2 separate regions of the Homo sapiens genome follow, and region 1 is linked to region 2. The links come from fine-mapping of genetic effects on gene expression. Tissue or cell type: thyroid. Region 2 holds a variant in brackets; the other region holds the start of a gene. All regions are shown on one strand. Distances are between the middles of the regions.

Evidence for each region.
Region 1: TOX starts here. The variant in region 2 is fine-mapped to the expression of TOX in thyroid (GTEx, PIP above 0.99).

What each region holds. Positions count from the first base shown.
Region 1 is chr8:59,116,272-59,121,648 of GRCh38, forward strand. It overlaps TOX (thymocyte selection associated high mobility group box), which reads right to left and starts at 2,876. Exons shown (of 9, transcript NM_014729.3): 1 at 2,615-2,876. The coding sequence starts at 2,716. It overlaps TOX-DT (TOX divergent transcript), which reads left to right and starts at 2,939. Exons shown (of 3, transcript NR_149031.1): 1 at 2,939-3,014; 2 at 3,686-3,800; 3 at 4,065-5,377. RefSeq lists a silencer at 3,401-3,620.
Region 2 is chr8:59,056,848-59,062,224 of GRCh38, forward strand. The region is part of intron 1 of TOX (thymocyte selection associated high mobility group box); the gene reads right to left. Among named protein-coding and RNA genes, the nearest start is that of TOX, 60 kb to the right of the region's middle. RefSeq lists an enhancer at 1,939-2,475. The variant G/C (reference allele first, on the strand shown) is at 2,903.

The sequences.
Region 1 (5,377 bases), 59 kb after region 2:
TAGTAAGCTACATATTCATTACGCCTCCGAAGGAAGCAAGATTTACTTTGCAGTATTGTTCTTTTGGGGATGTCTGATCCAACTTGTTTTAATAAATGTAGGCACAGATTTCTTACTTCACCTTTTCCAAACTTCTGTCCTTCTTCCATTTCCCTGCAAATCCACTCATGTCATTGCAAAAACAAATGCTAGTTGACTGCATTATGCACAACTACAATTGTGGAGCTGGACAGAAATTTTGTACCAATGCTAATCATGGTGGAGTGAAAAAACTCAAGTGCCTGGGATTTGTGGGGCCTAGAAAACTATCCAGTACATTTAATATAATCGGGACCAGTGACAAATATATCTGATGGACTGCTACACAGAGATGGGCCAGAGATGTCCCTGGAGAAACATTTCCATGAAGTCTTCTTCCACTATTAGAAACATGTCTTATGACTTTGGATTTTAAAAAATCTATTATTCTCTGGATAAGTTAAATAGAAGACTCGCAACTAGTCTACAGAAAGGGTGCCTAATTTGCATTTAAAAAGAACAGTTTGCTTCTTATACACGGGGTGACTTAAAAGGAACTTCAATGAGCTAGTAAAGAAATTCTGAATACTTTCTAAATTAATTTATTCAATTCACAGCACAACCCACTAAAATTATTTAAAGCACTTAATTGGAAAATGATTTAATATATTGAAGTAATTCCTGATTTTCCAAAGCATTTAACTTTTAAATTAAATCTGACCCTACTTATCACAAGAACGAGGAGTGAAATGTGTATCCAAGTCATTAACTTCTTTTTGGGGCCTAAAATCACTGATAAACTTAATAAGATTTGTCCAGTCTCATTGCCAAAATAGTTCTGAGCTTTTGGTTCCGGTAACTACAGTGGAATAAGTCTTTACTCTCCAAGATAGGGCTGCAACTTTATTATTTTTTATTAGCAATAGTATTGGTGTCATAAGCAAAATAAAACGTAACACAATACTTGAGTGTACAGACAAAACAGATTTTAGACTAAAAGAACTATGTCACCAGCAAATAATGAAACTTCATCACACAAACTCCTATGCGCTTGCCAAAGTTCCCCGTACCTTTCAACTTGCCCGTAGCTGAAGGGCTCCCTGTACAATGGAAGCCCTTCTGCCTTGCTCAAGACTGGATGTCCCTCTTTTCTAACTTGCCTAAACACCATCGGCACACAGCACAGTCCTTTGAGTGGGTCTCACACTGGACACAGCATCGAGGAGCTTCTCCACGGGGAAGTGTGTGTGTGAGAGCCTGCCTGTGTGTCAACACTGTCCAAGACTCGGAGCTGCGACTCGGTCGCGTGGTGCGGAGTCCAGGGCTGAGAAGGCAGCGCACTAAATATCTCTGTATCAGGTAAAAAAGCCGTTTGGTGATGACTCGCCACCAGGCAAATGTTGGGAGTCCCAACGATTTTTCCCGTGGAATGCACCGAGGGTCGCCATGGATGTGCCTGCAGGGGCTGTGAGTATCAGGCAGATTTATCACCAAGCGAGAGTTGGGCGTCTAAAAGGCCCGCCCAGCGTTTTAGAGAACTCAATTCTCTCTGCCAACGTTCATCCAACGGGACTGCTTAGACACGTCCAACTAGCCCTAGGCGTGGGCAGTCGTGCCCCTGCGACCACTCTGGGGGACCGGTCCCTGCGTGTCCTCCCTCTCTGGGATGAGAGAGTTCGAGAAGCCGGGAGAGTAACCCCCTCCCTCGTACCCCCTGACTGTCCTATAGGTGGACCCAGCCGAACTCCGCAGCAGCCCAGGCCAGCGCCCCACCTCCGGGTCACCGGCATGATCCGCCTCTCCCCGGGCCCCCGCGGCCCTGGCACCCGAGGTCAGCGGGCCGTGGGTACAGCTCAGCCGCGGACCCTGCTCCGCGAGTGCGGGAGCTTTGGACTTGAACGCGACGTGCTCGCCCGGCTCCCAACAAACTTGCAATTTCCGCGCGCACCCCTTAAACAGGAACTGTTCCCCAAACCTTGACCCAGCTACCCCGCTGTGCTCTGGCCCGCGGACCTGTGTCCGAACCCGGGCTCGGCTGCCGGAACCGGTTTGAGAAAACAAAAGAGTTGTGGGGCAGTTTTCCCTGTGGGGGGCAGGGGCGCCTCCCAGGTCCCTGCACCCCGACTCCCGGCTGCTCCCCTGGCAACTAATCCGGAGAAGGGAAGTGGTGCCACGAGCCCCCACTGCCCGGGGAGGGAGGGAGAGAGAAGGGGGAACTGGGAAATAAACTGAATTCTCTTACTCTGCCTCCGTTCCTGGACCCCAGACACACCCCCAAAGTATTCCACGGTTTTCTCTTATTATTTTTTTAAACGCCCCCCGGCAAACCTAGGCAGGGATCCTTAGCCGCGAACAGCAGGAAGGAAAGAATCCGAGCAAATCGTGTCACTTTCCGCACAATCGCGGTGTTTGGCAAGCCCCCGGAGCTACTCCACAATATTTACTACCCAAGCGCACGCAGGCTGCAGCGGGCTGCGAGCCGAGCGCGCCCGGGACCGGCCTCCGCCAAGCCGGCCCCGCCGCGGCCCGGCCACCGCCGCTCCCCTCCCAGGATCAAGCAGCAAGAACACGGTGGAAACAAAAGCAGAGCGTTCACCTTGTTGCAATAGTAGGGGTCCAGGCAGGGAGAAGGTCCCAGACAGGGAGCGTCGGGCGCAGCGGCGGGCTGGGCTGGAGGTGGATAAAATCTTACGTCCATTTCACTCTCACATCAAGCAACTCCTTTTCTTTTTCCTTTTTTAAAAAAAAGTGTTCAGCAAAACAAGCTTAGACGGAACAGAGTGAGGTGTCTGGGCTCAGGAGTAAAAGAAACACCTTCCTTCCCTCACATCCGTTTGTGGTTTGTTTAAGAAGAAGAGGAAAAAAAAAAAAAAGAGGGGGGAAAAGCGCTCAACTCTCCCCCAAGCCGCGGCGCGCACCCGTCGGCGCCGAGCGCGCAGCCTGCTCCACCGCCGCCTCTTGGTCCCGCCGCCGCCGCTGCCGCCGCCGCCGGGCAGGTAACTTCATGCGCTCATTGTCCCCCCCGCCCGCCCCCCCATCCCCGCCTCCCGCGCCCCTCGCAGCCCGGCACACGCGCTCGGGCTCTAGGTACTGGGCGTTTTATTGGAGATTCTGAGTTGTTCTGCTTGTAGTTTATTTTCTCCACCTTGGAGGCCCGGGATGTGGGGGGTGGGGGGGTGGGGCGGGGATCCAGAAGGGACAGGGCGGGAGGGGGGCGAGCGTCCCGGGCCGGGCGGGGTAGGGAGCGCGGCCGGACGCGGGCTCGTCAAGGCCCAATGGCTGCTGTTCGGAACCAGAGGCCGGGGACCGGAGAAAGGAGGAGCGGAGAAGGAGAAGGAGGAGAGCACGGCCTGGCTGGGACAGAAGCGGTGGGACCCTGGGAGGCCTCCGCTGTGCCCGTGCCGCGCTCCTCGGGACCAGCGCGTCGCACACAAAGGGGCTGCCGAGCCAGAGCCACCAGCGGCCTCAGGGCACCGTGGGGAGCGCGCAGCTAGGGGGCGCTGTGGCGCACCCCGCCCCGCAGCCCCGCCCCCGGCCCTCCCCGGCCCCACCCCACTCCCACCGCCCTCTCCGCGGCCGTCCCCACCCCTATCTCCGCGACCCCCACTCCTCCTCGGCTGTTCCCCAACCCTGTCACTGTGCTCCCCTCCCTACTCCCGGCCCGTAGTGGAGGTGACTTTCCTGCGCAGCGCCGCTTCTGAGGGCGGAGAACCCACAGGGAGTGCGACCCCTTTGCACGCTGTGAGTGGGCAACTGTCCGAGGGACTCGAGCCGATCGAAGGGTGAGGACCAGCTCGCCTGGGGGTGGACGGCCTGGAAAAGCCGCCCCTCTTTGGCTTCCCTCTGCCGCCTGCAGCCCGCACCCCTCCGAGATTCGTGCCCCACTGGACGGTTTGCGAAGGCTGAGGCTGCCTTGGGGACTCACAAAAGACCACAGGGGTGATTCGAAGTGTAAATAGGGAAACAATCATCAGCACACAATCCGGCTAAAGGGATAACATATGAGTTTGCTTGTTGTCCTTCATGGGATTCTTCTCTTTTTATAGCTGGACGCCCTATAGGGCTCTTGGCAGTCCACGAAAGACCTGGAGTCCGCCTCCCCATTTCTCCGGTCGGTGAGTGGCAGGAGGAAATCGCCAAACATGTTTTCCCGCTTTGCCTCCCCAACTCGGAAACTTGCAACTTGCCGTGTCCTGGAGGTTGAGACAATTTGGGGTCTCTTGGCTGCCGTCCAACAGATTTATCTCTGAGGGCAGTGTCCTTGGTGAGAGGTCCAAGTAGGTGTGGGCGACATTGTCCTCCATCTCATGAGGGAGCAGCCCTGCACACTAGGGCCCAAAACTCTGCGAAGGAGCTTGGAAGTTCTTCATCCGTTCCACTTGTTTTGCTACTCCACACACCCTTCTAGGACATGTTGATTGCCAACTGCTCTGTGCAGCTTTCCCATAGCTGTCTGTTCCCGTGCATTTCGGAGCACCAAGCAAATACGAGCAGAGAGACCTGGAAAAAAAAATGATGAAGACAGTATTAATGATAAAATTAACATGGCTGAGTGAATTGTCAATGCAAGTTCCTTTACTAACTCTTTGTTAAGTTTTGCTTTGTACTCCTTACATCCTCTTTCTCTTAAGCCATTGTTTTAATTTCTTCTCGTTATCATTTTTAAAAGTAACAGAAATACAGCTTTCTTCCTACCTTCACGATTGACTTGGTGGAGGTTGGGTTGCAAAGAGGAAGCAGTAAGAAAAAATAATTATTCTATACATTCACAAGTCCTTCAAGGCACAAAATAAAAGTAAGAAATAGAAAATATGTCCTTTCTCCTAATAAAGGTCTTTATAATAAAATTTAAATGAAGTTTTGTGTTTCATAACAGCTTCCCAAATACTGTTGTAGATACTAAAATGTGCCTGTATGTATTTCCTTCCACAATAATAATAGTAATAATAAACTTTTTTAGGTCCAAATTAAACATTTCTCAGCTTAAATTTCTATCCTCAATCCAACATTTATTATATCAAAACTTGATTTTTAAAAATAAAACTTTCTTGGAATTCATCATTGATGTCTGTTTGATGGCCTCGTGAACATCAGGAAGATGAAATGAAATGGTTCAAGACTGGAACAATACCATTATCTGCATCTTGACTCCTGGGAGATAATGATATCTCCTGCTTTCCTCTACAGACCTACCAGTTTTCTCTGCTTTAAGGGAAAATCCAAATGCATGAGACCTGTGCATTCTTCTACATAATCAAGAGTCTGGTTTCTTCCATCGGAGTGTATGGAGTTAAAGTGGTATACTGTACATGGCATGGTGTGATAGGTGGGAATATGAGCTACTGGGGGAAAAAGTTCT
Region 2 (5,377 bases):
GATCTCTCCGTTTTAACTAGCTGCTTGGAAAGATAAGGTCATGACATGTCTAGAAAAACTGCACACTTACTTGAACAGATAATATACAAAAAGCTGGCCCTAGCCTTTACTAATGTAAGAATCTAAATTTTTATCCCCAGAAAAAAAGAGTATGAAAAATACCCTTTGATACCCTTTAATAACGTAGTTCTTTCCTCCCAAAGCAGTGCTGTCTCCCAAGCTCAGCTCACCCAGAAAGCCACCACTGAACAATCCAGGGAGATGAGCTGCTCCACCTTCCAAATGCTAGTGCTGCCTTGAGCACTACATATTAATGAAGACATTAACTAGTAAATTTATATTTAAATAAAAATATGATTCAGGGAAAATATTGAAACATAAAATGAAAAATATGCTATAAAATTTTCTGTTACAAACTGGCCATATCTTGTAGAAAAAAAAATCACATACAAATAGTATTTATTACACCTCTGACACTACACTGAGCCCTTTACAAGTATTATTTGCATACAAGCAGAGGCAAAGTGTCATAATACACACCTCATAGGTTTGTTGTGAGAATTAAAAAGAGTTATTGTGTATAAAATGTGTAGAACAATGTTCAAGACACTGGAAACAATAAGTATTAGTTCCTAGTATCTGATTTAATCCTCACCCCAAACACCTAAGGATTAGAGATATTAAAGAACTTGCCTAAAATGACATTGTGTCACTCCAGATTTCATGCTTGTAACTGCTGTGGGTGAATAAAAAGTATATTCTCTCCGCCCCCCGCCTTTCAGTGTACACAAACAAAACAGTGTGTATATGAATACCATATATTTATAATTATATATATGAATGCTGGGAAAAAATGCATGCTGAGTGGTCGAATTACACATTTTTATTGCTTCATTTTCCATATTTTCTACAAGCAATATGTATTCCTTTAATAATCAGCTGTTTTTGTAAATATCTTCAGGAAACTTCAATCATCAAAACTTCTGGAAGTTGTTTTTTGTTTTTTGGAGTTTTTTGGATACAGAGTCTCACTCTGTCACCCAGGCTGGAGTGCAGTGGCACAGTCTCGGCTCACTGCAACCTCCACCTCCCAGGTTTTTTATGCTTGACCCAAAGGGTGCTCTAGAATGTGGACTACAGGTCAATCCAGGCTCTAGACGGAAAAAATAATATTTTTAAAATATAAAACCAATATCCCTATCCTATTTCAAAAGGATTTTTGTTTAGACAATGGTTTACTTATTATTTGAAAGCTTAAAGAAAAAAATGATTAAGCAACTAAGAATATCATCTCATTTCAGATGAGTTCTCCCCATGTAAGCTTGCTACAAAGGAGCAGAATTTTCAGGAGCTGCTCAAGGCAGCACTAGCATTTGGAAGGTGGAGCAGCTCACTTCCCTGGATTGATCAGTGGTGGCTTTCTGGGTGAGCTGAGCTTGGGAGACAGCACTGCTTTGGGAGGAAAGAACTACGTATATATTTCAGGACTATGTTTCTAAGATGACATAAAGGTGGGAATGAAAAATAGCATGAGCTGGTTCCTTCAAGTGGTCCAGAAGGAGCAAGTGGGGCCATGAGGGGAGCAGCTGTAACTGGTGGAAATGGTGAGCTGAATCCACATGCTTGCCCACTGGAAGGAGACACCTTTGATAATTTCATTTCTGTCTTTTTCTCTTTGGAGACACTAAGTTCCGGAAGAAGGCAAGCCACATTCTCAGGATCATGTGGGTCTGCCCCAGCTAAAGATGTACAAGCTATAGGGACTCCTAAGTGCGAGCCCTGTGACTGTTCATCCTTAAATACGTTAGCAGCCAGCATGCTGACTATGATGAGTTGTGCGCTCCAAGTCAGAGGGTCTGATTCCCCAGGTTCCAGAAGGAGCTCAGGAGGCTCCATGGTGCCTTTCCCCACCTGCAACTATTTTCCTACCAGCCACTATCCAGCAAGAGCCTCCTAGACCAAGGAGCCTTTCTCTGTTTACAATTAACAACAACAAAATATCTATTAAAAGGTCAGAGTTTCTCTCAATGAAGAAAGTTAACACAGCCCAGGGCATCCAGGAAGACAGCCAACTCTGGTCTTTAATCTTGCACATCAAGCACACCCTGATGGCCAACTTCTCAGCCAAGTGAGACTGCTGGTTGGCCTTTCTAGAATGTAGGAGGCAAACAGTAAAGTCTTCTTCAAGAGCAGTAAGAGTAATCTGGCCAGAGAGGATTTGAATTGAGGTATACCGGCAGCTTTTCTATTTGTTTGTAAATGAGAGAAGATAGAGGTATTTTAAGTAGATAATGAGGGTGCCTAACTAGTGAAGTAAGAGCCAATTTGCTCTAAGTAATTGTCTTCTAGAATATAAAAAGAATTTCAAAAAACATGATCCTTTCTCATTCCCCTTCCTTCACATCACCAAAATTAAAATAAAATTTAATTCCTTTCTAAGAGCCTGGAGAAGGTGGGGCTACCTTGGATGTTCTTCTAAAGATCAGATGAGCTCCTACAGAATCCCCATTCCAAGTACCGGAAGAAAATAATTTAATTGGAAGGTAAAAAGAAGAAATATTTTACTCTTTAAATTTTTTTTTAACTGAGAAATATCACCAAGTTACTAAAGATACAGAATGGAAAAGGAAGAATAAAGAGTCATTAATAAATATATCTCCTCTGAACAACATCAACACTCATTTTGTTTCTTAAATGTCCATACAGTGGTCTACTGTCAAATTAGATAACATGAATTTATATTATTATTCAAGAAAGAATCCCATATCAGGAGGCCCATATTTCAATGCAGAATGGATTACATTATTTGTCAAGGAAAACACATTACTCTTTGAAAAACAGAAAAGTTGACCTTGGCAAACAGTTAGTAAAATTATTCCCTACTTGATTTCCCTTATGTACA[G/C]AGTGTGGGAGAGCACATATTTAGTGCTGCTTTGTGGCATTGTTTCAAAAGAACTCTTGTTATCGTGGCCAGAAAGGAGTAGTGAACATCTAGAAAATGTTCACATTAGTGTTGGGAAGTGACCAAAGTCTTGTTTCCACCTTTTATGTTATGTTGTAAAAAAAAAAAAAAATCTTTTAGAAAGAAAATCATCTAGATTTTTATAGTAAGTAGACACAGGCTTAATGTATGCTTATCTTTTTATCTTTTACCTTGATCAACCATAGTTCTTTTTTTTCATAATCAGAGACAAATACAAATAAAGCATTTATTCTTTGACAAAATTCTAAAATTGTGTAACGATTTCCCGTTTTATTAGGATGCTATTACCTTATCATTTTACCTTGTCTCAGCTGGCATTCCCACTATTTTTGTAATAATTGATAACAGAGTGTTTAATTCCATCAAGACAACATTTGATAGCCCCGTGTCTTTATGTCTTTTCATGTGGATTACTCAAATCTACCTCAACAGACTTACTTATCGCAACTCTTCCTTTCTTCCTTATACCCTTCTGGCTCCCAATCCCAATAGTGTGCTGGCTATTAATATTTTATGGCTGGGCGCAGTGGCTCACGCCCGTAATCCTGGCACTTTGGGAGGCCAAGGCGGGCAGATCACGAGGTCAGGAGATTGAGACCAGCCTGGCCAACACGGTGAAACCCCGTCTCTACTAAAAATACAAAACATTAGCCGGGCGTGCTGGCACGTGCCTGTAGTCCCAGCTACTCAGGAGGCTGAGGCAGGAGAATTGCTTGAACCCAGGAGGCGGAGCTTGCGGTGAGCCAAGATCACACCACTGCACTCCAGCCTGGGTGACAGAGCGAGACTTCATCTCAAAAAACAAACAAACAAACAAACAAACATTTTATATGTAATAATAACATAAAAATAGTACTAATAGCCAATGTTTGTTTTATACCTGTCACCTTTTTGAAGCCATTTTTGCCTGTTATGCCATTCAATTCTCTTAGTAACATCAAAAATTAAATAATACCATTATCCCATGTTACAAATGAGGAAACCAGGGCTGACAGAGACTGACTATACTTGCCACTGTATCTTGTTGTTTGGTGCCCTTTATATCTTATATTTAGAGTGGAACATTAAGCCACTCATAACCAACCAAGGCTAGTTGAAGAACAACGCTACTATTGGGGGAAAACCTATTTGAAAAATACAATCGATCTTTTCCTGCTGAATGTTCTTCCCTTGTATCACTCCCTACTCAAAATCTTCCATAAAGCTGCATCTTTTAGAGTTACTGAGATATGAATAAGTCAGCAAAGATTACAGGAGATTACCAAGAGATTGTACGGTAAAAATGATAGATTGTAAATAATGTAAAACAGAAAATGAAAACAGAACATGTTTACAAAATTGTAAACCAAATCTGTGTTTGAGTGTGTGCGTGTGTATACTTGTGCATAAAATCATGTTATTAAATGACTGGATCAAAGTATTATGAATGGCAATGCTTCAGCTTCTAAATAATCAATGTGGATCATCGAAAACCAAAGAAACCAAAGCAATTGGTACTGATTGTTGAGATAAAAGGCATTTGATGAAAAGATTGTATGGAAAGCAATGCCACAAACCAGTTCACTCCTGTAAATGGAGGAACAAAACAGCTTGTATCTCTAAAAGATAACGTTCAGTAAAGGTTTAGTAATTACCTAGTATTTTTTTCTCTGTGATGGCCTCTTCGGTAATTTCCTCTACCACAATTTTTAAATAAATGTTTTAAAATGTTTATCTGGTAAAAATCCCCTCTTTTCCCCCACCCCATAGTCACTACTAGCAAAACCCCCATCTGGCTGTAAAGATCCTTAACCAGTTTCATAGTTGGTGGCCAGGTGATGATAAGAGGATGGCAACCCCTTGAATAAAGCCCACTCCTTTATGTCGGTCGTTCCATCATTTAACACTTTCCTATATATATCTAGTAGCAAGAAACTCAGAAGGTCTGGAATGACAGCCTCTTGGAGATCACCATGGAAGAGGAAGGCAGAGCTAGAGAAAAGCAAAATCCACGTGCGCCCATGCCCAGCCCCTGCCAGGAGAGGGAGGAAGGCAACAGCAGAACAAGGGGAGTGACGCCCCTCCATCTTCTTTCTTGGCGCTTCTCTTCTTCAGATTCAGATTTTATCTTTTTATGTATTTTCATTGAGATTTTACAAGCTCAAAAGCTTGTTCTGAGGAATATTTACTTGTCCTAAACATTCCAAGAAGAGGCTTCCTGTATAGCATTTTGGGATCTCCAGTGTGTCTCTAACCCCAGAAAATTCTGCCCCCACACCCAGGAGATTCTTCTTTAACAGAACCAAAGTTTTTTACCAAAACCCAAACCTAAAAGTCAGGTGGAAAGGTTGCGAAGCAGTGTGAGACGTCCTCTAAGGGAAGTTGAGGGTGGAGAAGGGGTAAGGAGAGGTGGTA